Linked DNA regions of Homo sapiens. The protein of the gene in region 2 interacts with the protein of the main gene of each other region in a pairwise test. Each region holds a gene or a part of one and is shown on either strand. Other genes may lie near its edges.

Region 1 (7,888 bases), on a different chromosome or scaffold from region 2:
AGAAAAGCTGTGAATGTGCTGTCCCCTGAGCCTAGAACACTGACCCCTCCCTGCGCCCCAGCACCACCCACCCCTTAGCTAACATTATTATTCAGATCTTAGCTCTCCGGGAACACTTCCGGCCACCCATCGAAACCTCCCCATCCCCTCATGGCTCATAATGACTTCACTTTGCTACACCATCTTTGTAAACACAGAAGTATGTGAAATTATCTTGATCCTTTGCTTGTGAAAGTTTGGTCGCTTGAGAGCTAGCTGCTCTGGATCTGTTACTCCGGGATGCTTCCCCAGCCCCCAGCGGGGAGTCAGCACCCAGCAGTGAAATAAAACTGTCTCAACGGGCTGCCTACTTGTTGCACTTGCCCCCACAGAGTCTGTGCATGCTAAGTTCTCACCGAAAAGCAGTTATTACTGGTGCCTTCTCCTCTACCTCTAGGCACAAACCGGAGCTGCCTGAGGCACTGCCTGTCCCCCACTCACCAGGGCCAACTCCCAACAGTCTCAGCTAAGTGACTGGATGGTACCACCAATCCCCTATCCCTGGTATCCAACCCAGCTTAGGTCCAGGAGGACCCAGTCTGTGCTGAAGCAGACCTGCAGCAATCCTGGCCCAACCAGCCAGGAAGGATGGTTCAGTCTCTTTGCGGGACTGCTGGCCCAGTTCCTACTCCTCCTAGAACCAAGTGGCTAGCCAGACAGGCAAGAAGGGCAGGGCCCAGGTTGGAGGGTGTCCTGGGAACTATAGGGAGACTGGGGAGAATTAGGGTGACAACCCATCATTAAACCCAGAACTGGCTGACACCACTTGACCCAGCAGTTTGTGGCTCCTGCCTCAGGTGCTGAAGATCCCAAATCAAAGTCCCAAGGACACCCTGGTAACAGCCTTGCAATTAGCCCAGAAAGGAACAAAAGCTGCTGCCATCCGACTGGGGGCCAAAGTGGGGCAAAAACAGTCTAGGCAAGCAAAGTCAAGTCCAGCCCTGGTGGTGCCAGGCCTCCTCAGCTTCCCACGGTCAGCCCACAGTTCCATGACTCCTGACCTCTTGGCTCCCAGGAGGGAAATGGGGAAGAAGGGGTGACCAGGCCTCCGAGAAAGATACCTCCACTGTTCCATTCCCCGGGGACACCATGGAAACTCAGTCTGTCCCAAAGGGGATTGACCCATCCCCCGGGGTGAGCAGAAGGGAAGGCCTGGACGGAGGAGAACGCCCGCCAGGGAATCCAGAACGAGGAGCTCCTTCAGTCACCCTCCTGGAAGGCCACTTGAGTGACTATGGGTTTGGGCTGAGGGTCAGACAATCCCAGTTCAGCCACTGTCTGCTCATGTGATCTGAGACAAGCCACACCACCCCGAGCCTCAGCTTCCTCGTCTGGACCCCAGAGAAGGCCTAAGTTGAACTGGTGGTGGTGAGCCATCAATGAGCTCATCCGACCAGCGAGCTCGGCACAGGGCCTGGCCCAGGACGAGTGTCCCAGAGGTAGATCCCTGGGCCAGGGTGTGAGTGCCTGATTTGATCCCCTTAACTCTTCTCTGTGCCCTGCCTTCACCCCGTCGGGAGCCTCCAAACCACCATCAACAGAGTTTTACATGCTCATTCCCTCTAATTCTTCACCCCCAGGGAGATGGCACACAGAACTCAGGCTCAAGGAGTTGGTGCCTGGGAGGCCATGGTACTAATATATACGATGGTTGCTGTGAGGTCCCATCCACTAGGCTTGAACCACCAGCTTCTGGCCACAAAAGGTAGAGAAAGAATGCAGGATCCTAAAATACCCAGGTAACGTCTGCTGGGCTGCCTCCCTGTAGATATATAAGGTGGGGGTGGGCAAGGGCCACCTTGTGATAAACAAGATGCCTAAGCTAGGTGTTCCAGACTGTCTCCAGCTGCCCACACAAACACCCACTGGCCAGTGCCTTTGAACAGTTGGCAGAGGCTTGCCCAAGGGGTAGGGTCAGGACTCTAGAGGCTTCAGGGATGAGGTGTGAGAAAGACGGAACCCCTTAACACTTGAGTTGGGGGCGGTGGGGGGCGCATCTTAGTATATACCTTCTGGTCACACCAGCTTTTCCTGACCTGCCCCCACATCCCCCCTAGCCTAGCCCAAAAGGCTCTGCTCTCTCGACTCCCAAAACTCCTACAGCAGTCCCTCACCTTACCTGATCGCCCCCACATCTAGCCTCCCCCTCCCCACATCTGAGTCCTGACCTCATGTGACCCCCGGAAAACATCTCTGGGATCTCCTATCCGCCCCCACACGAAGTAACTCCGCCCACACCCGCCGTGCCCCACTTCCTGGGCTTCTCCTCAGCCGCCCCCAGGCCTGTAACTTGACCCACCCACCTCCTCCAGCGCCCAGGCGGTACCTGCAGGCCCGGCCCCTCCCCGCCCCCCTCCGGCCGCGCCGCTCTCCTCTCCTCCCCCACTCGGCCTGGCCGGAGCCCGACTCCTCCTCCCCCTCCCCCTCCCCCTCCGGCATCCACGAGAACCTCCTCACTTTTCCGCCTCGGACCCTCCAACTTCCCCGGATCCCCGGTACCTGCCCCGGCCCGACCTGGCCCCCTCCCTCGCTGGGAGACGGGGGAGCGGTCCAGGTACGATCCTGCCGCCCCCAAGCCCTGAAGCTCGGGCTGGACGCTCAAGGCCGCCCGCGGTAGCTGGGCCTCCACACACTCGCCTGCCCGGGCACAGTGCAGGCTGCGGGCCCGGCTCCTCCTCGGTCCGAGAAAGCACCCAGGCCCTCCCCACTCAGCCCTCGGGCCGCCCCGGCTGGAGGAGGCCGGAACCGGGCCTGAGGCGGGCCGCCTCACCTGCGCCGTGGCCGCGCTCCGGGGGGTCCCGGCGGGCTCCGCAGCGGCGGCTGGGGCCGGGCCTGGGCCCGGGGCGCGCCCCGCTGCGCCGGGGCCTCGGCCTCCGCCTCCGCGGCCTCCGCGGCCTCCGCCTCAGCAGCAGCGGCAGCCGCGGCGGCCATTCATTGTGGGCCAGGCCGCCCCAGCCGAGCGCCGAGCGAGCGCAAGCCGCGCTGCCGCCGCAGCCAGGCCAGGGAGGAGCGGCCCCGGCCCCGCCCGCGCACCGCCCTCGGGCCCCGCCCTCCAGGCGAGGCCAGCCGAGCTCCGAGCGCGCCCCTTCTAACCGGCTCCGTCTCCTCTCTATGCCCCTGGGGGATCCTCGCCAGTACGTCGGCTCAGCTCGATGGTTCGAATCCTGGCCCCGCCACCTTCTAGTCCCGCGACCTTGGGCAAGTCGCTCTACCTTTCCGAACTTTAGTTTCCTGTAAAACAAAAACAATAATGACTGCTGTTTATTGTGGCAGGCACTGCGTTACATTCTTTATGGGAATTAGCTCGTTTAAACTACACAGTAACATTTTTTAGTGAGAACTGCTACAGACACACTATAGAAAATAAAGGCAGCTGGGCGCGGTGTCTCACGCCTGTAATCCCAGCACTTTGGGAGACCGAGGTGGGTGGATCGCCTGAGGTCAGGAGTTCGAAACCAGCCTGGCCAATATGGTGAAACTCTGTCTCTACTAAAAATACAAAAATTAGCCGGGCGTGATGGCATGCGCTTGTAATCCCAGCTACTCGGGAGACTGAGGCAGAAGAATCGCTTGCACCCGGGAGGCGGTGGTTGCAGTGAGCCGAGATCATGCCACTGCACTCCAGCCTGGGCGAGACTCCGTCTCAAAAAAAAAAAAAAAAGAAAGAAAGAAAGAAAAGGAGGCACAGAGAAATGAAGAAAGCTGGTCAAGATCATCACACAGCAAGGAAGTGATGGTAGGTGCCAGGATTTAAACACAGGCTCAAAAGCGACAATAAGACCTAAGACTTTTATGATGCTTACCGGATGCTAGGTTCTGTTAGCATTTTACCTGCACTAACTCGTTTACTTCTCACTACAACCCAGTAACAAATGGTAAAAAAAAGTTCTGCCCATTTTGCAAAAGCGGTAACTTAAGTTCAGAGTTAACAAGTCGCAGGGCGAGCTGAGACTGGAACCCAGGTAGCCGGGACCACTTCGCTGTCCTGCCTTCATACACTGGTTAGAACTTTACCGAGCGCTTACAATGTTAGAGTGGTTCTTTGCACACTTTCCAGGAATCTGTCATTTAATCTTTGCTCTATCTGAGAAACCACGATTCTCATTTAATAGGTAAGAAAAGTGAAGCCGCGGGAGTAACCTGCCCAGAGCATGTGATGGGACTGAGATTCAAACCCGGTAAATCCAACTCCAGAGCCTGAGTCATTCCTGCAGGGTGCTCTGAAATAATGTGTATATAGCACCCAGAACACAGAAGAGGACCAATAAGTGTTGGGTTTCTCCGCTTACCGCCCCTTTTCTGAGCCACAACTTCCTCATCTGTGAAATGGGACTAGGGACGTGTCCTCTCCCAGGGGATCCACTGTGATTAACACCCCCGGAACAGCACGATCAGCGCGCTTCCTTTATGGCTTTCATTTTGATCCCGGCCGCCCACCGTACGTTTCCTCATTGACTGGCCAACCACTATCATGTGATTCGCCCACCCACTGTGCCAACATGGCGGCGCCCAGGTCCTAATTCGGGAAACGTGCACCTTGACTAATTCGGTTTTCTGTGGCTACGAGAGCAGGTGAGGACGGGCTAGGCAGCGCGGGGAGGGATTCGGACTCGGGGCGGGCCTGCACGAGGGCATCGGCTCCACAGGGACCAGTCATCCCCAAAACGAGGGGATATCAGCTTACCGAGGCCGCAGGTTTTCCTAGTCCCTACCTCATAGATATGTAGGACATCCCCGGGCCCGGAATGCGGCTCTCTGACCCTCTCTGTGCCCTCCCCCGCCCCCCGAACCAGGCTTGGCGGGCGGAGGCGCCAGCGGATGTCTCATGCAAGGATCGTCTCTGTGGCTAAGCCTCACTTTCCGCTCCGCCCGGGTGCTCTCTAGAGCCCGGTTTTTCGAGTGGCAGTCTCCAGGGCTGCCGAATACAGCAGCGATGGAGAACGGCACCGGGCCCTACGGAGAAGAACGTCCACGTGAAGTCCAGGAGACGACAGTCACCGAGGGGGCTGCCAAAATCGCCTTTCCCAGTGCCAACGAGGTCTTTTATAACCCGGTGCAGGAATTCAATCGGGACCTGACGTGAGCAGGGGTCAGACGTTAGCCTGGCATCGGCTAGTGGGTCAGTGTGGATGGCGGGGGCGGGGTATGAGCTAGTCCTCTGTCTCCCACCAGATGTGCTGTGATCACCGAGTTTGCTCGCATTCAGCTTGGGGCCAAAGGAATCCAGAGTGAGTGGAGGTCCAGGCTTCTGGTGGGCGGGGGTCACACAAGTTTATCTCCCTGCCTGGGCTCTTCTGCCGCCCAAATCCAGAGGGGCTTCAGCCACATAGCAGGCCCTGGGTTCTGCTCCTTCAGCCTTTCCGCAGGGATTTCAGGGACGATATTTTGGAGATTAAGGGGAGGTTTCTCAGAGGGGACCTTGTTATTCTCTGACTTGTGCCTCTGGGTGGCTGCAGTCAAGGTTCCAGGAGAGAAGGACACGCAAAAAGTGGTCGTGGACTTGTCAGAGCAAGAGGAGGAAAAGGTTGAACTGAAAGAGAGTGAAAACCTGGCCTCAGGAGACCAACCTCGCACAGCGGCCGTGGGGGAGATCTGTGAGGTGGGGCCTGAGCATAGGAGCTGGCAGCCCTGGAATTTAGCGGGAGACAGAGGGCTCCTGGAGGGGGAGAGCTATAGGAGGTGGGTGGTGGGGGCTCCTTGGGGCCCAGAAGAGGATGGAGGTGGAGATGTGAGGGAGGTTTTCTGCTTACTCCAACAGGAAGGCCTGCATGTGCTGGAAGGCCTGGCAGCTTCAGGCCTACGTTCCATTCGATTTGCCCTAGAGGTGCCTGGGCTCAGATCTGTGGTTGCAAACGATGCCTCCACCCGGGCTGTGGATCTCATACGCCGGAATGTCCAGCTCAATGACGTGGCCCACCTGGTACAGCCGAGCCAAGCAGATGCCCGGTAGGTTCTGGGCATCACAGCCTAGCTCTGGGACAAGCCTGCCTGGGGTCAAATTCTGGCTCTGTCACATTCTCACTCTGTGACCTTGAGTGAGTGACTTAGCCTCTTTGAGCCCCAGTTTCCTTGTCTGTCAACTGAGAAAATTAGTTTTACAGGGGTTGCTGTGATGAGTAATAGATAATTATGGTATGATCCATACTCTGTGCCAGAAATAAGTAGCATCCTGGTCTCTGTTTTAACTTCTTACACTCCTTTTATTCATTCAAATGAGCCATAGTATATCCAGTGTCTGCTATGTGTCAGGCACCGTTTTCAAGAACTGGAAATGCATCAGGAAACAAAACATGCAAAATTGGTGACCTTCGCAAGAGTTGGCAAACTATAGCCTGTGGGGCTCACAGCCTTTTTTTGTTTGTTTGCTTGTTTGTTTGTTTTTTGAGATGTAGTCTCGCCCTTGTTGCCCAGGCTGGAGTGCAGTGGCACGATCTCAGCTCATTGCAACCTCCGCCTCCCGGGTTCAAGCCATTCCCCTGCCTCAGCCTCCCGAGTAGCTGGGATTACAGGCACGTGCCACCACGCCTGGCTAATTTTTATTTTTATTTATTTATTTATTTTTTGACACGGAGTCTCGCTCTGTTGCCCAGGCTAGAGTGCACTAGCGTGATCTTGGCTCACTGCAACCTCCGCCTCCCAGGTTCAAGTGATTCTCCTGCCTTAGCCTCCCGACTGAGTAGCTGGGACTACAGACATCTGCTACCACACCCACCTGTATTTATAGTAGAGATGGGGTTTCACCATGGTGGCCAGGATGGTCTCGATTTCCTGACCTCGTGATCTGCCCGCCTCGGCCTCCCAAAGTGGTGGGATTATAGGCATGAGCCACTGCACCTGGCTATGCCAGGCTAATTTTTATATTTTTAGTAGAGACAGGGTTTTGCCATGTTGGCCAGGCTAGTCTCAAACTCCTGACCTCAAGTGATCTGCCCACCTCGGCCTTCCAAAGTGCTGGGATTACAGACGTGAGCCACTGCGCCCGGCCTAGCCTAGTTTATCAATGGCCCACAACCCAAGAATGTTTTTTACATTTTTAAAGGTTAAAAAAGAAGACTATGCAGTAGGGACCACATATGACTCACAAAGCCTAAAATACCTTCTGACCTTTTACAGAGAAAAAAGTTTTTACTTTTCTGACCTTACTAGAATCCAAATAGTAATCACAGACAATGAAAAGTAATTAGCTGGGCATGGTGACTCATGCCTGTAATCAAGCATTTTGAGAGGCCAAGGCAGGAGGATCGCTTGAGGCCAGGATTTCAAGACCAGCCTAGGCAACACAGTGAAACCCGTCTCTACAAAAATTTTAAAATGAGGTCAGACGCAGTGGCTCACCCCTGTAATCCCAGCACTTTGGAAGGCCGAGGTGGGCGGATCACTTGAGGTCAGGAGCTCGAGACCAGCCTGGCCAACATGGTAAAACCTCGTCTCTACTAAAAATATAAAAATTAGCCAGGCATGGTGGCACGTGCCTGTAATCCCAGCTACTTGGGAAGCTGAGGCAGGAGAATCGCTTGAACCCAGGAGGTGGAAGTTGCAGTGCGCCGAGAACCCACCACTGCACTCCAGCCTGGGTGACACAGCGAGACTCTGTCTCCAAAGAAAGGAAAAAAAAAATGTGTTAATACATCTATAAACTGCTTGAAATGGTGTCAGGCAGATACGTCTTATATCAGTATTGTTGTTGTTTTAGATGTGTGGACTGAGTTCCACATGGTGCTTTTCCTAAGTAGGAAAATTGTGCAGTTTAATAAATGACCAAGGCCAGTGCAGTGGCTCACACTTGTAATCTCAGCACTTTGGGAGGCCGAGGTGGATGGATCACTTGAGGTCAGGAGTTTGAGACCAG
Region 2 (7,024 bases):
TACATGCTACTTACATGATACAAAATTGCTTTTTAATTAAGATTATACACTAACACTCCAAAAGCAGCACTATAGCAAAAATCAGACAGCAAGATATTGCCAAGCGTTGGCAGGGCTGGAAAGACAGGGGACCCTCACACTGCTGGGTGTAGACTAGGACAGCCATTCCAGAGAGTAACTTGGCAGTACTTAGACAAGTTAAATATACATATATAAATCCCACAATCCCACTTTGCTAGGCCATCGTGGTTATGCACAAGACTGTTCATCAGGAAGCTGTTTGTGGTAGGAGAGAGCTGGGAACAATCTAGCTGTCCATCATTACCGGAGAACAAAAAGTCAAATGCAGTGAATGGCGTAACACATGGAATCCTATGTAGCAATTAAAAGCAAAGGATTCAGTGTACACAGAGCATCAAGGATAGCTCTTAAAAACATAGTGCTAACTGAAAAAAAGAAAAGTAAAACACGGAATAAAGAATTTCACAGCATAACATCATTTATGTAAATCAAAAATACATGCTCACAAAACACTGCAGGTCACAAGAGCACCAACAAACAGAAAGATGCATATCCAACATATTAGAATGGGTTCCTTTTGAAGGCAGGAAGTAGGGGAATGTGAGTGGAGGATGAGAAAAAGGGGAGTAAATAAATAAAAGCGAGGAGTAAATAAACAAAAGACCAAGGACAACAGTGTGCTCTGCCCTCAACAATCTGCCCGACTCAGTCATCTGCTCCAGAGGAAAAAGAAGGGTGCCAGGGATGTGCTGGGCTTGGTGTAGAGATTACCTCTAACTCTTCAATTGTGGTGTTTTCCTCATGAACTTTCAGATCATTCTGTGTGTCTTCCTCTCCAGGCTCCTGACCGCCGACGATTTCATTGAGGTACTGCTGATCAATCTTATCCAAGGCTGCTTTCAAATCATTCCTCAATCCCTAAGAAAAGCAAAAAAAGGAAGAACACCTGTTATGAAAGGAAGAACACCTGTTTTTTCACCTTTGATTTTTCATTAATAACTGCAAATATTTTTTCCCCCACAAGAAGAGTTCAGCAAAAGTAGGGACTCAAATCACATCAATTTATCACACAACTATCACTACTGTCCATTTAAAGTTAATTCTTACGGACCTATTTAAATTAAAACAATGCACAAACAATGGCCAGTCTGCTGGTCAGAAAAATAAAATACACGTGAGTGACAAATCCAAGTAAGAATCTTCATCAATGCTGTAATTTTCTAATGAGGCTTAGTGACAGTGGCAGGTCTCCATTAGAGTCCCCAACCCGTTTGCCCAGCTCATTTACAATGTCTAACCTCAACTACTGTGAACTCCCAAAACATTCAGAAACATCAGTGTAATAAAATTGGTGCCTCATCTATATCCCAGGTTCTCAACTATGTTTCTAGCAAACCAGCAAATTCGCATTTTATGCACATATGGTTCATGACCCTTTAATGAAAATGGAAGCCTCATCTTCCTAAAAATGAATGAGAATCAGCTGCAAGGTTTAAGAGCCAAGGAAACATGGCTGTGAGGCGGCTATAGGGTAATGGTTGAGAGTAAAAGCTATCTGGGTTCAAATCCTTGCCACATACTATTAAATAGCTCTTTGAAAGCTTGCTTAACCCCTGTGTGCCTCAGTAGACTCACCTACAGAATAGGAGTAATGGCACCATCTACTACGTAGGGCTGTAATAAGGATGCTATTTTTTATTTCAGTGAACAGTTACTATGTGATGCAGCTGTTCCAGAACCTCGCAAACATCAAGTCACGCAAGTAAGCTAAGAAATGGACGATGAGCTTTGAACAGTTACTGGAGCACGGTGCACATTCAACCAATGTTAACTCCTAACGTTCTCACACAAAAAGCATCTGATCATTGTCTCCTGTCCCTTCATAAACACAGAAGAGAAACATTCAACTCAAAACACTTATAATTTCTCAAACACTGACTGATCACCTGCTGTGTAAAAAGTATGACGCCAGGCATTCCCAGAGGTCACCTCATCGAATTCTCAGTGCATCCCAGTGAGCCAAATATCACTGCCTCTGTTTTACCAATGAAGATTCTAAGGTTCAAATAGAGTAAAAGACTTGCCAACGGCCAAATAATTGATTACTATAATCCAGGAATGGAATCCAGACCTTGTGCTCCTGTGCTTTGTCCTCAAAACCTCTAGATGCACGGCACAGGACTTGGCATACAAAGGTAAAACAGCCTTTGCCCACCAGGAAGAGATAAATATGCACATAACTCTAATAATAGCGAAAAACAGTAAGTACACTAACAAAGGTTTACTCATAGGCACATGGAGAAGGAAGCAATTAATTCTGACTGGGACCAAAAATAGATTCCGAGAGAAGATGTGGTCACTGAATTGCATGTGAAAGTATAAAAACAAGATTTCAACCAGAGCATACAAGGCAGAAACACAGCAAGCAAAGGAAAAATGATCATTACAGACACAGAGGACTGAAAGCAACTGCTAGTGTTGTGGGGCTGGAATGACAATGCTGGGAAGTAAAGCAGGAAAGTGGTTTGGCAACAAAGAAAGCAGTCAGACAGCCCAGGCTAGCAGACAGAGCAGGTCGGGGAGCGGGCCTGGCCAGCCCCAGCTGTTCCTGCCATTCCAACTGAGACGCCAGGAAAGGGGCAAGATATCAGCTTAGAAGACCAGTCCAGAGGCAGCCTCACATGATTTCGGCCGCAGCCTTCATCTGACTGCAATCACAATAAAGACCCCAAGCAAGATACTGCTCAATCCAGCCCAATAAAACCACAGAACTGGTAATTATTAAGACAATAACAAATTATCTTAAGCTATCAAGTTTCAGGGTGGCTTGTTAATCACCAAAAACAGATTTGGTAATGATAAATCCTTTATAATAAATAAACAAACACTAGTAAGTTTTGGAGTAGTCTGTTACATAGTCATAGGTAACCACACCTGTCTCTCAATAATTGAGAAAGCAAGTAGATAAAAAGTTAGCAAGGCCAAAGAAGATCTGAACAACACTATCATCACTGACATTTGTAGAACTGTACCATGAAAGCAAAACAATACTCTTTTCAAGAGCCCATGGAATAAACCATATGCTAAGCCATAAAACAAGATCAGAGCCTTAAATGTAAAGCAAAAACTATAATATTAAGCTTCTAGAAGAAAATTAAGAATATATATTTGAAATCTTGGGATAGGCAAAGATTTCTTAAGCAGGACACAAAAAGCAATGACCATAAAAGGAAAAAACAATAAATTGGACTTCATTAAAATATAAAACTTCTGGCCCGGGCACTTCGGGAGGCCAAGGCGGGAGGATCCCTTGAGTAGAGGAGTTCAAGATCAGCCTGGGCAACATGAGGAGGCCTCATCTCTACAAAAATTAAAAAATCAGCCAGGCATGGTGGCACACACCTGTGGTCTCAGCTACTTGGAAGGCTGAGGTGGGAGATCGCTTAAGCCCAGGAGCTAGAGGTTGCAGTTAGCCATGATCATGCTGAACTCCAGCCTGGGTGAGAGTGAGACCCTGTCTCAAAAAGCGTGTGTGTACACACACACAAACTTCTGTTCAGCAAAAGATTCAATTAAGAGAACAGGTAAGCCCTAAACTACAAGAAAATAGTCACAAAAAATATTCGTATATCTGACAAAGAACTTCTATCCAGAATATACAAAGAATTCCTATAATCCATTTACAAAAAGACAAGTTTATTTTTAAAATGAACAAAAAGCGCCTGTAATCCCAGCTACTTGAGAGGCTGAGGTGGGAGGACTGCTTAAGCCCAGGAGGTTGCAGCTGCCATGAGCCATGATTATGCCACCGCATTCCAGCGTAGGTGACGGAGTGAGACTCTGTGTCAAAAAAATAAATAAATAAGGAAAGAAAGACTTTAACAGACACTACACAAATGAACACAACTTTATGAAAAGATGCTCCTCATCTTTAGTCATCAGGTAATGTGATTAAAGCCGCAAAGAGCTACTACCAGACACAAAAGAGAATGGTTAAAATTAAAAAGACTAACAATACCACATGCTGGGGTTTGGAAATGACTGGCATTTCTTATGAAGTTAAGCATACATCTACTCTTATTATCCAGCAATTCTACTTCTAGGTATCTCCCCAAGAGACCTATTTATTTACCCAAGAAAAATAACATAGTTCCAAAAAAAGATCTGCATAAGAATGGTCATAGCAGTTTTATCCCTGTTTTTTTTTTTTTTTTTTTTTTTTTGAGAAGGAGTCTCACTCTGTCGCCAGGCTGGAGTGCAGTGGCACAATCTCAGCTCACTGCAACCTCCACCTCCCGGATTCAAGTGATTCTCTTGCCTCAGCCTCCCAAGTAGCTGGGAATACAGGCACACGCCACTACGCCCAGCTAATTTTTGTATTTTTAGTAGAGACGGGGTTTCACCATGTTGGCCAGGATGGTCTCGATCTCTTCACCTTGTGATCCACCTGCCTCAGCCTCCCAAAGTGCTGGGATTACAGGCTTGTGCCACCACGCCCAGCCAGCAGTTTTATTCCTAATAGCCCAAAGCTGGAAACAAATTTTGATATATTCATACAACTGAGTATCACTGGAAAATGAAAAGGAAACCAGTGGTATCTGCAATAACATGGATGAACCTAAAAACTGATATGCTGAGCGAAAGAAGCCAGACACACAATCTATGAGTCCATCTGTATGAAATACAAGAACAAGCAAAATTAATCCATGATGACAAAATTCAAATGGTGGCTGCCCAGGAAGGGATGAGGAGAAATATGAGGATAGGCTGAGAAGGGGTACTGGGGAAATTTCCTTTTTCTCTTTTTTTTCAACTTTTAAGTTCAGGGATACAGCTGCAGGATGACAGGTTTGTTACATAGGGAAACGTGTGTCGTGGTGGTTTACTTCACAGATCATCCCATCACCCAGCTATTGAGCCCAGCATCCATTCGCTATTCTTCCTGATGCTCTCAGGGAAATTTCTTTGGTGACGAAAATGTTCTATTTCTTTATAAGGGCAATGGTTATATGCTTGTATGTATTTGTCAAAATGCATTAAATGTTATACTTAAGATATGAGCTTTTCAAAAAATTAATGAAAACTTCCATTCAGCAGCAATAATCTGCTCACTTTACTTTTCCATTGTTGCCTACAATAATGCAATTAGTCAAACTCTATTCTAGTGAATGCAGTACAGTGGTATTTTTCTAGCTTTGTTCTGTCCTCTTACCTTGTTAACTTCTGGTGTGAGGATCTCTATTTTCCTTAAACGTTGAAAAGCATCATAATCAGTCTCTCCAAATAGTCTGATTGGTTCTCCTCTTTCTCTCAATCTTCTGATGACCTACAAAGTGAAACAGATACCCAGTAAATTTTTTTTTTTTTTTTTTTTTTTGAGACAGTCTCACTCTGTTGCCCAGGCTGGAGTGCAGTGGTGCGATCTCGGCTCACTGCAAGCTCCGCCTCCCAGGTTCAAGCGATTCTCCTGCCTCAGCCTCCCGAGTAGCTGGGACTACAGGCGCCCGCCACCACACCCAGCTAACTTTTGTATTTTTAGTAGAGATGGGGTTTCACCATGTTGGCCAGGATGGTCTCAGTCTCCTGCCCTTGTGATCCGCCTGCCTCGGGCTCCCAAAGTGCTGGGATTACAGGCGTGAGCTAATGTGCCCAGCTATTAAACTTTTGAGAGAGGAAAAAACTAAACATCTCAAAAACAATTTGTATATTGTACCTTAAAAGCCAAGCCTGGGTTTAATAAAAGCTAATTATCCAAATACATGCCTCTGTGTAAAGTATAAAATCCTTCAAATATTTTAGATCATTTCAATTAAGCTAAACAAAGATGTTTCCAAATCAAAGAGAAAATCAAGTACTTTAAAAATCTATTTTGACTCAAAAGTCACTGTTATTAATTTTATCACTGAACAGCTCCTAGAAAGTGGTCTGACCTATGACTCTACAATTCAAGTCTAAAGAAAGACCCTAATATAAACCACCTCTTTTACTGTGAGATTTTTAAAAAATTCTTTTTTGTAAGAAAAGGGGCATGTCTGTGGCCCTCATTTTACATAATTATAACTGTTCTTAGTCTTCTTTTAAAAACAATGGAAAGACAATAGTAATCCCTTATGTCAGCATATTTTTGGTGATCAAACACTTGTTTTGAAATGTAGATGAAAAAAGTAATCTGTTTATTCTTTTAATTTTCCATAAACAGATATACTGTGTTACCATCACACCTTAAGTAACCATAAAGTTTAGGTCGTTTAGCTCACTGCTTCGATAGGACCAATCTGTGTGGCAGGACACACAGGAAAAACACTAAGATGGGAGGGAATGACAGCATTTATAGAGAGAAGGAAAATCAAATCTGAAGCCAGCTGATAATTACCATAATGGACAGTCTGCATTGTAATACCACCATGAAACCAAAAACTTCTCCCTCAGAAAACAGGGAGTTATAATCTGCATATGCAGAGCTTTTAAGATGCTGAAAATCTATTTCCAAACTTGGGTGATGGTTACATGAATATTTATTTTATAATTATTCATATATGTGTAACAAACATATATTGCCCTAACATGGTTCATACACTTTATATACATGCTATGTATGTCATTTTAAAAAGGAAGAAAGAAACAGAAAACGTAATAAATACTAGTCCAAATTTTTTAAATAAAGCAATAATGAGAAACACCAAGAGCTTTACCTGGGAGCATAAATAGCATCACACCTAAAATCCATTGAGAGGGCTCCCAGTGGATTAACAGAAGTTTGAGATTAAAACAGAAATTTAAGAGGTCATCTAGTGCTATCTCCAATCAATGCAGAAATGACCTCACAAACACCCTTGTCAGATCCCTGGCTGACAAATGGCAGGAATCACATTTCTTCGTGAAACATCCCATCCCATTGTTTAGACAGAGATGTTTTGCTTCTCAAAACTGAAATCTACTTCCCCCAAACTTCTACCCATTTATCCCAGTTCCACTTTATGAAACTACAGAGAATATTCTGATT
Region 3 (6,857 bases), on a different chromosome or scaffold from region 2:
ACTCCGTCTAAAAAAAAAAGCAGTGACCAATAAATGGTCATACAAATGACCAACAAACGTGTAAAACATGCTCAATTTCATTAGGAATCAGGAAGTACAGATTATAACTACAAAGAGTTGCTATACCCACCAACCAAAATATCTAAAATTTAAAAGACTAACAATACCAAGTGTTAGAAAGAATGTGGAGCAACAGGAACATAAAATGCTGTTGGGAATTTAAGTAGTATAATCACTTTGACAGCATCTACTACAGCTGAACATACGAATACTGTATGATCTAGCAATCCTACCAAAAAACATGAACAAAAATAGTCACAGTAAAACTATTCTTAACAACCCCAAACAAGCCAAATATTTATCAAGAGTAAAATGTATATATAAATGATGTGAAAAACATACAATGCAATACTACAGAGTAATAAAAATGTACAAACTACCTCTATAGACAGCCACATGGACAAATCTAACGAACATACTGTTGAGCTAAAAAAGCCAGTCACAAAAGAATAAACACCAAACATTTCCATTGATAAAAGGTTCAAAGGCAAGCAAAACCTAATTATAGTGATAGGAGCCAGAACAGTGGTTATATCTGGAGAGTAGAGATGGGGTAATGAACAGAAAGGTTCATAGGTAGAGTTGTCACATAAAATACAAGATTCTCAGTTAAATTTGGTAAACAATAAATAATCCTTTCCCATAAACAGGTTCCATGCAGTATTTGAGATATGTATTTTTATTCGCTAAATCTGGCAACCCCAGTCAAGGGTGGTATTTTTGGAGAACAGGTCATATTTTATTTTATTTATTTTTTTGAGACAGGGTCTGGCTCTGTTGCCCAGGCTGGAGTGCAGTAATGCAATCATGGCTCACTGCAGCCTCGACCTCCCAGGCTCAAATGATTCTCCCACCTCAGCCTCCTGAGTAGCTGGGACTACAGGCATGTGCCACCACGCTTGGCTAATTTTTTCAATCTTTTGTAGAGATGAGGTCTTACTATATTGCCCAGGCTGGTCTCGAACTCCTGGGCTCAAGGGATCCTCCCATCTCTGCTTCCCAAAGTGCTGGGATTACAGGCGTGAGCCACTGCGCCCAGCCCCCATATTTAATTTCTTGATATTCATTTTGTGATCATCCATTGTGCATCTTTCTGTATATGTGTTGTACTTCATGATCTTAAAGTTTTTTAAAAAGCAAAAATATACGCAGAACCTTGCAGATTTATTAATATTTCATCCATCCACTGTTTTTCCTTCCCATCCTTAATCACTGCACGTGAGAGCTATGATACTTCTGCAGGAGGCAGGCACTGGTAATCAGAGTGTTGCTGGGCAAAAAGCTGTAGGCTTTACTTTCATTTTTTATTAAAATTACTTTTACACAGCATGCTTCTTTACTTCTGGAATCTGTTTTCATGTCCCGTCTCTCAGGGGCCTTTCTTGTTTGCGTGACTGGCTTAAACTTACCAAAGGGCAATGCTATGCTGGAAGGCCAGCCTCTGCCCATCAACCAAGAAATGCACAAATCAGTGTTCAAAGTTGGACTGACCAGACGTGTAGGGGTCAGAATTCAATGGCGTGAAGCTACAAAGAAAAAACTTGTACTTCAGGGCCAACAACTTAGATACAGACAGTGTTTGGAAACCATAAAGCCAAATACTTCAATCTGCTGCCTGCTTTCTAAAGTTATCAAAGGTTTACACAATTGCCTTGAGTGGCTCCATCTAATTCCCTCCCATCTAATTGGGAATTAGCTTCTCCTGCAGACACAGATGGCTGACCCAAGTGAAGGGTAGTAACCAGTATAAACAAAAGCCTGAATCATTTTCCTGCTGTCGTTTAAATGAGGTGCTATTTATTGGCAAAAGTTCTTTCATGCTCAGGGTTTTTTGTGTTGTGTTGCTTTGTTCTGTACGTTCATCTTCTTTTGAAATGAACCCCTCCAGGACAGGCGCAGTGGCTCAGCCTGTAATCCCAGCACTTTGGGAGACCGAGGCGGGCAGATCACTTGAGGTCAGGAGTCCGAGGCCAGCCTGGCCAACATGGTGAAACCCCATCTTTACTAAAAATACAAAAATTAGCCGGTGTGGTGGCGGGCGCCTGTAATCCCAGCTACTCGGGAGGCTGAGGCAGGAGAATCGCTTGAACCTGGGAGGTGGAGGTTGCAGTGAGCCGAGATCGGGTCACTGCACTCCAGCCTGGGCGACAGAGCGAGACTCCGTCTCAAAAAAAAAAAAAGAAATGAACCCCTCCCAATTATAAATAGAGAAAAAAAAAATCCCTCCAAGTTTGGGTGCCTGTCTCTATAAAGTTTGGGAGTAAACTTTACAGGCTGATAGAACTCTTATCTGCCACCTACCCCTCTTGATAAGTGCCAGATTTCTTCAATTTGATAATTGAAACGGTATCTTTTTTCACACAGGATACTGGGGATAATGATTAGGCTCCTGAGCTGTGGAGACAAGGTTGCTTGAAAGAAACCCAGCTTCACCACTGAGACTGTGTGGTTCTGTGCCTCAGTTTCCTCAATAGTAACTGGGAATAAAAACTACCTAATTCAAAGGGCTGTTGGGACACTGGATGCTGCATAAGGTGATTAAAGCACAGCGCCTGGCACACATTAAACCCCCAATGGTTATCGTCACTATTATTTGTTACCTTTGAGGGTCCTGCCACCTATAAGGACTCTCTCTATATATTTCTAAATTAGGAAAAACATTCAGATGCAGCTGGAGAGATGGGAGAAGCAGCCTATAAAGTTTGGTCCAAGTTGCCACCAACCCAGGGCAGCAGCATGGGGCCTCCAGGAGAGTCTGCGGAGGTGGCCACGCCACGACCCTGCCTGGACCCCAGACTCCAGCCGGGAGCTGTGACCTCGGACGCCCTTCCTACTCACGTTGCGGTTGAAGCTGTTGCCCGGCAGCAGAGGCAGGGCCATGGCGCTCAGTGTCCGAAAATCCAGGGTCCCAGAAGAGAGGGCCCGGCAGGCAGCGGCGCCTCCCGGCCGTGTTGTTTGGCCCCCACGTTGCCTGGAGACGGGAAGCGGCGTCACGGAGGGAGGAGGGGCGGGGGGTTGGCGAGAAGGATCGTGGGGGGCGGGGGACACCTCCGCGGCGCGTACCTCCTCCCCAGCCCCAGTTCCCCTCCACCCGCTTCATCCCCGCACACACTCAGCCAGGTCCTGGTCTCCTGAGGAGTCTTCTCTCTGCACACGCAGTGTGCACACACAAAGATTGACTGTTCCCTGCCCCCGCCGCTTTCTGGTTTAACCCCCTTATAGAACTCAAAGCCTTTCTTGTACTTTCTTGCTTTTCCAATTCTTGTCGCCAACAGTTTTTTGCTATGTGGTTCAAACACACAGCAAAGTACAGAAAGTAATATGACGCCCGTGTGCTCACTGAGATGTTACACAAGTCGATATTTTCCTATGTTGCATAGACATCAGCTTTTATTTTGTAATTAAAACGTTCAAGATGAATCTAAAGCCACATATACCCTGACGAAAACGCGTTGTAATGGTAACCACCGCCTTCAGTTTTTCTTCTGGATATTTTTATATTTGTTGTTTGTTTGTTTGTTTGTTGTTTTAAGACAAGGTCTCACTATGTTGCCCAGGCCGATCTCGAACTCCTGGGCTCAAGCAGCCCTCCCGCCTCTGCCTCCCAAAGTGCTGGGATTACAGGTATGAGCCACCGTGTCCGGCCCATTTTTGTATTTGAACTAAACGTTTGTAAGGCCCAATCAGGGGTGGCCGGGGCGGAGTCAGGTGTCACAAATCGCAACCCCTGTCACTCCATCGTTCACCCCAAGATAGCCGGGCCAGGAACCTCCTCTCCCGACACCTACGTCTAATCCCTCCCTGAAGCCCTAAAGGTTGGACTCGATGCTCTCTCTCAGTCACCACCTCGTCTATTTCAGCTGCGATCCCATTGTTTCTTGCCTGGTTTTCTTCTTTAAAAAGAAAAACAAACACACACAAAAAACTAACTGATCTTGCCTCCAGAGCCGTCGTTTTTATAATTCATGGTGCAGCTGTTACTCTTCTGCTTCAATAATCTAGCCTTCCCGCCGCCTTCAGAAGGTGGTGAAACTCCTTATAGCCTGGTCTGAGGAGCTTTTGTCAGAGGGCACCTACCAATGCCCTCCATCCCTTTCTTTGCCCCCTCCTCCATCTACTCCAGCTCTGAGAAACCACTGGCAGTTTCTAAATCAGGCTCTGCGGTTTCTCCTCTTGGGGCTTTTGCAAATAACACTATCGTCTAGAAACACCCTTCCTTCCTATCTTTCACATAAGTAACCCCTTCTTGTCTTTCAGGACTTGAGGCCAGCGTGGGAGTGGGGCATAGAAGGTATTGCCATTTCTTCAATATATTCTTTCACCTTCTTCCTGCCGCCTCCATCTGTATTTGGTGTCTATTCTGATCGTGGCTTTCATCCTACTACATTGTAATTACCTGTTTACTTGACATTTCTTTAAATGCCCCCAAATACCTCCAGGGCAGGGACTGTATCTCCTTTTTTATTCATCAACAATATCCATTATTGCTTCTGTGTTTATAAATTTTACACTCTAAATTTCTGCTACTTGCTTTTTTTGCCTGATTCTGTTATTGAGGCCAGGCGCGGTGGCTCATGCCTGTAATCCCAGCACTTTGGGAGGCCGAGGCAGGCGGATCAAGAGGTCAGGAGGTCGAGACCAGCCTGGCCAACATAGTGAAACCCCGTTTCTACTAAAAATATTAGTAGAATATTAATATGCTACTGGGAGGCTGAGGCAGGAGAATCGTTTGAACCGGGGAGGCTGAGGTTGCAGTGAGCTGAGATTGCTCCACTGCACTCCAGCCTGGGCAACAGAGCAAGACTCTGTCTTGAAAATAATAATAATAAAATTCTGTTATTGAGATTTCTACACATTGACACATGTAGTGTTCATTAATTTTAAACGCATTGTATGATTATACCACAAATTGTTTAACTATCTGCTCTCATCTGTTGATGACAATTAGATTGTTTCCAATTTTCCACTAGTTACCAACAATGCTGCAGTGAGCGACTCTGCCTGTTCCTTTGGCAATGATCTAGGGCACATACTGAAAGATGGAATTACGTACATATCTGAGTGCATGGCTTCATCTTTACTAGATTTTGCTAGATGATCTACAGACAGATAAACCAATTAAGAAAGTCCCCTTCCCCGTTCATCCTTTCAACAATAGGTATTACCAAATTATATAATTTTGGATAATCATCTGAATAAGTGTGAATGGTATACTATTGTTATTTTAATTTGTTTCTCCCTAATTCTCCCTAAGCAGTTGGTCATGTTTTCCCATGGTTGTTACTTTCTCCTGTGACTCAGCTATTCATATCCTTTGCAGATTTTTCTCTTCGGTCATTTGTAGTTTTTTTTTTTTAGATAGATAGATAGATATAGAGATATTCTGGATACTAATCCGAGGCATAGCAAATATTTTCTCATTGTCGTTTGTCTTTTAACTCCACTTATATAGAGTTCTTTATTGTACATAAATTTGTTACTTTACTCAAATATATCATTCTTTCAGTTATGGTTGGTGGGTTTTTTGATTTATTCTACTTTTTATTTTTTGAGATGGAATCTCACTCTCTCACCTAGACTGGAGTACAATGATGTGATCTAGGCTCACTGCAACCTCCGCCTCCTGGATTCAAGTGATTCTCCTGCCTCAGCCTCCTGAGTAGCTGGGATTACAGGCATGCACCACCACACCTGGCTAATTTTTGTATTTTTAGTAGAGACGGGGTTTCACCTTGTTGGCCAGGCTGGTCTCGAACTCCTGGCCTCAAGTGATCCACCCACCTTGGCCTCCCAAAGTGCTGGGATTGCAGGCATGAGCCACTGCACCTGGCCTGTTTGGTGTTTTGTATGTGAATTCAAAAATCTTATACTACTCCAAAAGAACAGTTATTCTCCTACATGTTCTTACAAACATTTTTAAAATTCCCTGTTGCTTTTTAAATTGAAATAATTTCAAGCTAGTAAAAAGTTGCAAGAACAGTCCAAATAACTCTCATTTATCCTTTCCTCAGATTCCCCAATTGTTTTATATTTTACCACATTAATTTTGTCATTCTCCCCATATATATCTTTTACATTTTAGAGTTAAGTTGCAGATATCATGCCCCTTGACTCCTAAATACTTCAGTGTGTATTTCCTAAGAATAAGGACAGTCTCTTATATAACTGAAGTGCAATAATCAAAATCAGAAATTTAATATTAATACAATACTGTTTTCTTTTTTCTGAGACAAGGTCTCACAATGTTGCCCAGGCTAGAATGCAGTGGCATGATCATGACTCACTGCAGCCTCCACCTCCTGAGCTCAAGTGATCCTCCCACCTCAGCCTCCCAAGTCGTTGGGACTACAGGCATGTGCCACCATGCCCAGCTATTTTAATTTGTTTTATTTTTTGTAGACATGGGGTCTCATTATGTTGCCCAGCCTGGCCTCGAACTCCTGACCTCAAGCAATCCCATCTCGGCCTTATAATACTATTTTCTAATCTAAAATACATATTCAAATTTTGCAATTGTACCAATAATGTCCTTTTTTTTTTTTTTTTTTTGCAGACAGGGACTTGCTGTGTCACCCAGGTGCAATCACGGCTCACTGCAGTTTCTACCTCTTGGGCTCAAGCGATCCTCCCACCTCAGCCTCCCTAGTAGTTGGGAATACAGGCACACACCACCATGCCCGGCTAATTTTTTTTTCTTTGTTGAGACAAGGGTCTCACTATGTTGTTCAGGCTGGTCTCAAACTACTGGCTCCAAGCAATCTTCCTGCCTTGGCCTCCCAAAGTGCTGGGATTACAGG
Region 4 (7,024 bases), on a different chromosome or scaffold from region 2:
TTATGGCCCAAGAACTTTAGAAGGAAAAAGGAAAGCTCTCTACTGATCAAATCTCCTTTACCCATTTTACTTTCAACAAACTTCAAGCCAATCACCCTGAACAAAGTCCAAAGTCCTATCTCCTATCTCCAAAACTCTTTGAGTCAGATTTTTAGACATTACTTATCATTCACAGCAGGGTCTGGGCTGTACTCTAGTACAGCCTAGGTCGAGACCAGCCTGGCAACATGGTAAAACCCCGTCTCTACTAAGAATACAAAAATTAGCCGGGCGTGGTGGCAGGCACCTGTAATCCCAGCTACTCGGGAGGCTGAGGCAGGAGAACGGCTTGAACCCTGAGGCGGAGGCTGCAGTGAGCCGAGATTGCACCACTGCACTCCAGCCTGGGCAACAAAAGCTAAACTCTGTCTCAAAATAAAATAAAATAAAATAAGATAAAATAAAACTCTTTCCGTTTTTCAGCCCTCTTTGTGACTTTAGAATTGTGGACATGGGCGGTAAAACCCTGTCTCTACTAAAAATACAAAAAAAATTAGCTGGGCAGGGAGGTGGGTGCCTGTAGTCCCAACTACTTGGGAGGCTGAGGCAGGAGAATGGCGTGAATCCGGGAGGCCGAGCTTGCAGTGAGCGGAGATCGCGCCACTGCACTCCAGCCTGGGCAACAGAGTGAGACTCCGTCTCAAAAAAAAAAAAGAATTGTGGACATGGGACTGTGTACTTGTAGTAATTTTCTTCCCAATAGAATAGATGGTAAGATACACTCTGGACTCTGCTATGCCTCCAGATGAAACGATAAGAAATTTTGTGTATTTTTACAAAACACTCTTACGATATCTGAAATGCATTGGAGTAATTCGTACTTTTAAAAACAATGCTGTAAAATGTGTAATGACATGAAAAGATGCTCAAAAAAGTGAGAAAAGCAGTTTAGGAAATAGTATTACTGCCTGATCCCATGTTTAGCTTTAAAAAGGGGGGTGGATTATCCAGATCTTTCTTTTTTAATTTTTGCTTATCTGTATTATCTGAATTTTCTATAGTGAATATCTAATACTTTAATATAGAAAAAATGCAAAATTCATTTATAAACTGGCAAACTAAACTGGAATGAGAGACGCTATTTAAAAAGTTCTTACCTCCGATGATACAGATATATTACAGGAAAATAAAAGAAGTGTTTCTGTTTTCTGCATTTCCCCTGGTTCCACCAACAGTTAATTGCCACAAACAACACCTGCAGAGCCAAAAAAGGTTTTCAAATGACTATGAATAACAACTGAAAAGTTACCAAGATTTAAAAGATGAAATTTAAAAATAGAATGATTCCTCTCTCACTGAAACAGAAACTATGAAAAAAACTGTTTTGAGTTTTCAAAGGTCATAATTTATCACTAAAACAAAAAAGAAAGACATACTCTTATCTATGATGTCCAGGCAGGACTTGGACCGTGTTTACCAATCTTACCATGCAATACAGTTCAAAAGATTTCTGTGTGTTTCCAAAAATAAACCCACTTTTTTCCCTACTGAGTACATGGAATAGTAAGCTCTCAATTTGGAAGGAGCTGAAATTTTTTTTTTAAAAAAAGCAGCAGTCCCTGGATTGCACTACAACCCCCACCACTACGTGATGGTAAACAAACTGCTTCACCCCTTATGCCTGCAGTCCTGCTTCAGAAAAACAGGGCTGACAGCATCGCCTTGCAAAGTGGTTGAGAATTGGCATGGGGCCTGGCACACCAGAATATCATTATTATTATACTAATGCCATCACTCAGAAGGACATACTGCTTAGGCTGACAGTAAGGTAGCTAATTCACACTTATTAATAAAACACAATAGATATCCCTCTTGTGCCCAACATGGGCAACGTGAACTTTGTTCTCTAAATTTGGAAGGCTCCACAGTTTCTAAGAAAAACCAAATGACAGTTCCAAATGAACTTCTGGAACTCAGCTGCCTACACACGTTACTTCACATCAGTGGTTCTGAGCAGGAGAGTCTTAGAAATCTGTGGGATGCTTTTGGCTTGCTACAATGACTGGGGGAAGCTACAGTGCATACGTAGGGCAGGGGTGTTGGTAGATGTCCTGCTACACTCAAACCTGCTTTGCACACGGAAGAGTCGTCCATAGCATTCCAGAGGAGTTCAAAACGCCTGCCAAACACTGATGTTGGGGAAAACCTGTTATTATCAAAGCCCAGTACCTAGCTCCATTTTACATGTGAATCTAAAGCATGCTTTTTGTGTTCACTGAATTTTTCAGGAATGCAACTTCTATGTAAACTGAGAGCAGAAAGGGCTTTGCATAGTTCAGGATTTTACCAAGACTGTTCACCATTTAGGATAATCAATTACTAAGAGCAATGTCCATGTGGCAGGTAAGTCACCAACATATCACCTTTATCAGTCTACGTTTGTAACTATCCCATTCAGTGATTCTACATAAAGGTATATGGACCTGTTCTGACTGTGCACTTACATACTAAAATATATATCATTTAGTTACAAATTACTTTCTTCCCCCCTCACCTCTATGTTACAATCCGTGCATTAGATTATTTTGAAATTACATGTATAGGAAAACTTTATCATCTATGAATTCCTTTTTAGGAAGAAAAAGGGACATCATAAAATACTTATTTTCTAAAGCACAACTGGGGTCCACTGGGCTGAAAACCACTGCCATAACAGGTGACTTATTTGCCTATATATCTTTCTTACCTAGCCCAAAGGTGGCATTCCTTATCTGCTGAATATAGTTCTGGTCCATATATTAAAAAGGTCGGCCTTGTTACAATGCAGTCATATCATACATACATTTTCTTACCTAAAATACCTAACTAGCAAGTATCAAATGGATATGCAAGAACTAGGATTTTCAGTCCCTCTACCTTTTTCAATGCTGAAACCAAACAGTATGGCACCCCAGGATAAGCATTGGCTTGTGTTATGAGATTCAGAATCTGCTCCCACACTTGCCTTGGAGTACAATCGCCACAATTGGAAATCCTTTCTGTTGCTTTATAGAAAGCTCTGTAACTTAGAAACGACTCCTGGAGTTCACCTTGGCAAAGTCTGCCCGTTGGGCAAGGTGTCTCTGTGGGGACATCCTGCCCTACATATAGGACTGACAGTCATTTGATTCTTAAGCTGAATGTGAGCATTACCTGATCTGAAAGCCGACTTGCTGCTTGCTCAATTTCTGCCCTGGCAGCGATGGACTGTCCACACCAAGGGGCATAGAAGAAGAGCAGTACCACCTCTGAATCCCGTCGAACGTACTCTGCATAATCCAGCTGCCCCTGGAAGAGGTCAAGGACTGGAGACCTCAAGGAGAAAAAGCTGACAGGTGGCTTTGCTGGTATTATCACATCTTTTGCTCGACTAAAAAAGAGCAAACACAGAAAAGATTGCTTAGTTTATCTTCTTCTAAAAATAGCTCTGTGGAAGTAGAATGAAGCTTAAAAGGAAAATCCTCTTTTGAATAAGAAAATGGAGTCCCAAAATCACTGCCCTAGAAAGGCAACATCTGGCTGAGCAAATGCAAGACATGAATAATACGTTGGAAACAATTCTCTGAGATTCTGTCCCCTAGGTGTAGGCTGGAAGGGCAGTGGAGAGCAGAGAAGGATGTCTCTGAATAATCCATATTCCTGCTCCCCACATCCCAAAGACTTCATCCTCCTTTTTCTGCAGCCTGGCTCTCCACAAAAGCCACTTATCTCCAGGGCTTTAGAGCCACCAGCATGCAAGCTCAGAATTACGGTGAGGGAGCATGTAAACTACCATTAACAAGATTTCCACGGGAGATGCTTACAATCAACTCAACTTTGAGAAAACATTAAGCTTATTAGCTGGAGTTGGCTTGTACTTATCCAGGGCATTCAGGTAACAGTAACAATTAAACAATAATATACATTCCTCCAGATATATATCATAATCCTAAGACTAATGAAGATAAGTAACAAAGCAACAGCCTATTTAACTGGAAAATGGGCTTTTTGAACACTTGAGCTTCCCACAAGAAACAGATCAGGAGGAAAAAGAAAAGAACGCTGAACAAACAAGTGGTCAGAAGTAACTTTCCCCATCAAGACCTAAAGATCTAGGCCCAGGCTGCATCCCACCAAGTAGAAGGGCCCTAGTAAACACCCTGAGCTGTCCATGCATCTACACTCACATACCACAAACCATTAGGGCAGCTTTGCTAAGAAACAAATGAGACCCAATTATGCACTATCTAAACGAGATAAATAGAGAACATAAACATGGAAACCTAAAACGCGATGAGATTAACCCCAAAGAAAGTAAAGGAGACCAGGCGTGGTGACTCAGCCTGTAATTCCAGCACTTTGGGAGGCCGAGGCAGGCAAATCTCCTGAGGTCAGGAGTTCAAGACCAGCCTGGCCAACATGGTGAAACCCTGTCTCTACTGAAAATGAAAAAGTAGCTGGGCGTGGTGATGGGCGCCTGTAATCCCAGCTTCTCGGGAAGCTGAGACACAAGAATCGCTTGAACCCGGGAGGCGGAGGTTGCAGTGAGCCGAGATTGCACCATTGCACTCCAGCCTAGGTGACTAGAACAAAACTCCATCTAAAAAAAAAAAAAAGAAAGAAAGTAAGTAAAGGAACAAGAAAAGAACAAAAGCCAGACGGTACAAATGGAAAACAAGGAGCACGAAGGTAGACTTAAACCCAACTACCTCAACAATTACGTTAAATATAAAAGGAGAGGCCGGGCGCGGTGGCTCATGCCTGTAATTCCAGCACTGTGGGAAGCCGAGGCAGGCAGACCACGAGGTCAGGAGATCAAGACCATCCTAGCTAACATGGTGAAACCCCATCTCTACTGAAAAAAATACAAAAAATTAGCCGGGCGTGGTGGCACATACCTGTAGTCTCAGCTACTCGGGAGGCTGAGGCAGGAGAATTGTGTAGGTTGCAGTGAGCCAAGATCATGCCATTGCACTCAGCCTCGGCAACAGAGCGAGACTACGTCTCTCAAAAAAAAAAAAAAAAAAAAAAAGGAAGCAACCTAATTAGGAGGAGCAGACTGCCAGACAGGATAAAGCAAGACCCAATTATGCACTATCTAAACGAGATATATCTTAAATATAAAGACACAGGATAAAGGCATAAGGATGGGAAAAGAAAAACTATGTAAATAGTGAGCATAAGAAATCTGGCATGACTCATGAGGTAAAATGATAAACTGGGGTATATTCTTACCCATTTACTTAAATGTTACTCCACAATAAAAACGAAAAGCAAAACCTATTCATATGTACTATAACTTGGATGAGTCTCAAAATGATTATGCTGAGTGAAAAAAGTGCTAAAGAGTACATGCACTATGACTGCATTTATATGAAATTCCAGAACAGGCAGAAGTATCCAACGGAGCAAGTCACCTATTTATTCACTCAAACTAATATTTTAACCTTCAATCAGAGAGCTTTCAGTCTATGCAGAATGCCTTCATAACCTGAAAAAATCACTTACACAATTATTCAAAAATTCTTTACTGAGCAGCTGTGACTGTGCTTTGGGCACAAGCACTAAGGCTGCGGCAGCTAGCACTGCGTGTTGTCGAGGAGACCACTTTCTAGGGGAGGAAGACAGGAAAAACATCAAATGTGTAAACAATAAAAATATACTAAATGCTCACTATGTGAAAAATTTAACAAGGTGATGTACAGAAGGGCATGGTAGCTCCTCTGATGGAGTGGTGGCTTGGGAGGTGCTATAATTTAAGCTCTGAGACCTGAATGACAAGAAGATAGCCACCTAAGAGGTGGGGAGGGCACTACAGGAAAAAAAAAAAAAAGACACGTTTTCAAGAGATCCAAAATTCTGCTCTTTGGAGAAATTACTTTTCTACCATTCAAACTGCACATGGCCAAGAGTCGTGGCTCACGCCTGTAATCCCAGCACTTTGGGAGACAGAGGCGGGTGGATCACATGAGGTCAGGAGTTTAAGACCAGCCTGACCAACACCGGGAAACCCCATTTCTACTAAAAATACAAAATTAGCTGGGCATGGTGGTGCACACCTGTAATCCCAGCCACTTGGGAGGCTGAGGCAGGAGAATCGCTTGAACACGGGAGGCGGAGTTTGCAGTGAGCCAAGATCACGCCATTGCACTCCAGCCTGGGAAAAAAGAGCAAAACTCCATCTCAAAAGAAAAAAAAAATGCAATGTAAGCATCAAATAATGCAATCTGAGGAAAAATGTAGGTCTGACAGTCAACGAAAGGATAAAGAGCAACTCAGTAATTTTGCTCTGCATATTCAGAAGCATTCCTAAATGAGCCAGATAAAGTACAAGGCCAATCAAAAATCAAATATTGGCCAGGGAGAAGAAACGCTCGCCTCTACTCCATCAGAAACACTGGTGAGTTTCTATTTAACTCATCAATCTGCTTCACGCTTTAGAGAAACTATACATAGAGCAAAGATTTCCTGCAGCTATGAGGGGTATGTCTCGGGTACAAAAAACTCGAGTTGGTTGCAAATAAGAAGGCCTGTTGTTGCTGAGCCAGTAGCATGTGCCTATAGTCCCAGCTACTATACTCAGGAGGCTAAGGCAGGAGAATTACTTGAGCCCAGCAGTTTGAGGCTGCAGCATGCCATAATTGCACCTGTGAATAGCCACTGCACTCCAGCCGGGGCAACATAGAAAAAAGGCCTGTTGAAACCCCAATTTTCCTATGAAATTCACACCCTACATCACTTCCTTGCAAAGACCATTCGAGGCAGCTTTGAAATTACAAAATGGAATAAAGCAAAATAAATACATGTATACATACATATGTATCTACACACAGACAATTTTTTTTCCCTCTAAATCAAGGTAAAAGAAAGGTGAGCAGGATGAAGAGACACAGGTAAGTAAAGATTAGATGCCCAGAAACGCACGATTATTCACTGTGGCTCAACCTCAAATCAACCTTTTCCATATTAGCTGGTTTGAATTCAGCCAAGCCACAGACATTGAAAAGAGCAGACATTTATTTCAAGC

What was found.
Region 1: the proteins of PRPF18 (region 2) and NACC1 interact in binary tests that used the Homo sapiens proteins (3 or more experiments, as listed by UniProt).
Region 3: the proteins of PRPF18 (region 2) and EFHC2 interact in binary tests that used the Homo sapiens proteins (3 or more experiments, as listed by UniProt).
Region 4: the proteins of PRPF18 (region 2) and TXNDC11 interact in binary tests that used the Homo sapiens proteins (3 or more experiments, as listed by UniProt).

What each region holds. Positions count from the first base shown.
Region 1 is NC_000019.10:13,113,376-13,121,263, reverse strand, and holds the start of NACC1 (nucleus accumbens-associated protein 1), read right to left. Parts: upstream 3,001-7,888; 5' UTR 2,810-3,000; exon of another isoform or gene 2,539-2,809; intron 1-2,538. Other genes in the region: TRMT1 (tRNA (guanine(26)-N(2))-dimethyltransferase), read left to right, coding at 4,865-5,118, 5,212-5,267, 5,496-5,638, 5,798-5,985. UniProt on the Homo sapiens protein: Functions as a transcriptional repressor. Seems to function as a transcriptional corepressor in neuronal cells through recruitment of HDAC3 and HDAC4. Contributes to tumor progression, and tumor cell proliferation and survival.
Region 2 is NC_000010.11:13,603,954-13,610,977, reverse strand, and holds part of PRPF18 (pre-mRNA-splicing factor 18), read right to left. Parts: intron 5,348-7,024; coding exon 5,234-5,347; intron 940-5,233; coding exon 793-939; intron 1-792.
Region 3 is NC_000023.11:44,340,649-44,347,505, forward strand, and holds the start of EFHC2 (EF-hand domain-containing family member C2), read right to left. Parts: upstream 3,025-6,857; 5' UTR 2,941-3,024; coding exon 2,899-2,940; intron 1-2,898. UniProt on the Homo sapiens protein: Microtubule inner protein (MIP) part of the dynein-decorated doublet microtubules (DMTs) in cilia axoneme, which is required for motile cilia beating.
Region 4 is NC_000016.10:11,732,846-11,739,869, forward strand, and holds part of TXNDC11 (thioredoxin domain-containing protein 11), read right to left. Parts: intron 3,389-7,024; coding exon 3,172-3,388; intron 1,235-3,171; coding exon 1,137-1,234; intron 1-1,136. UniProt on the Homo sapiens protein: May act as a redox regulator involved in DUOX proteins folding. The interaction with DUOX1 and DUOX2 suggest that it belongs to a multiprotein complex constituting the thyroid H(2)O(2) generating system.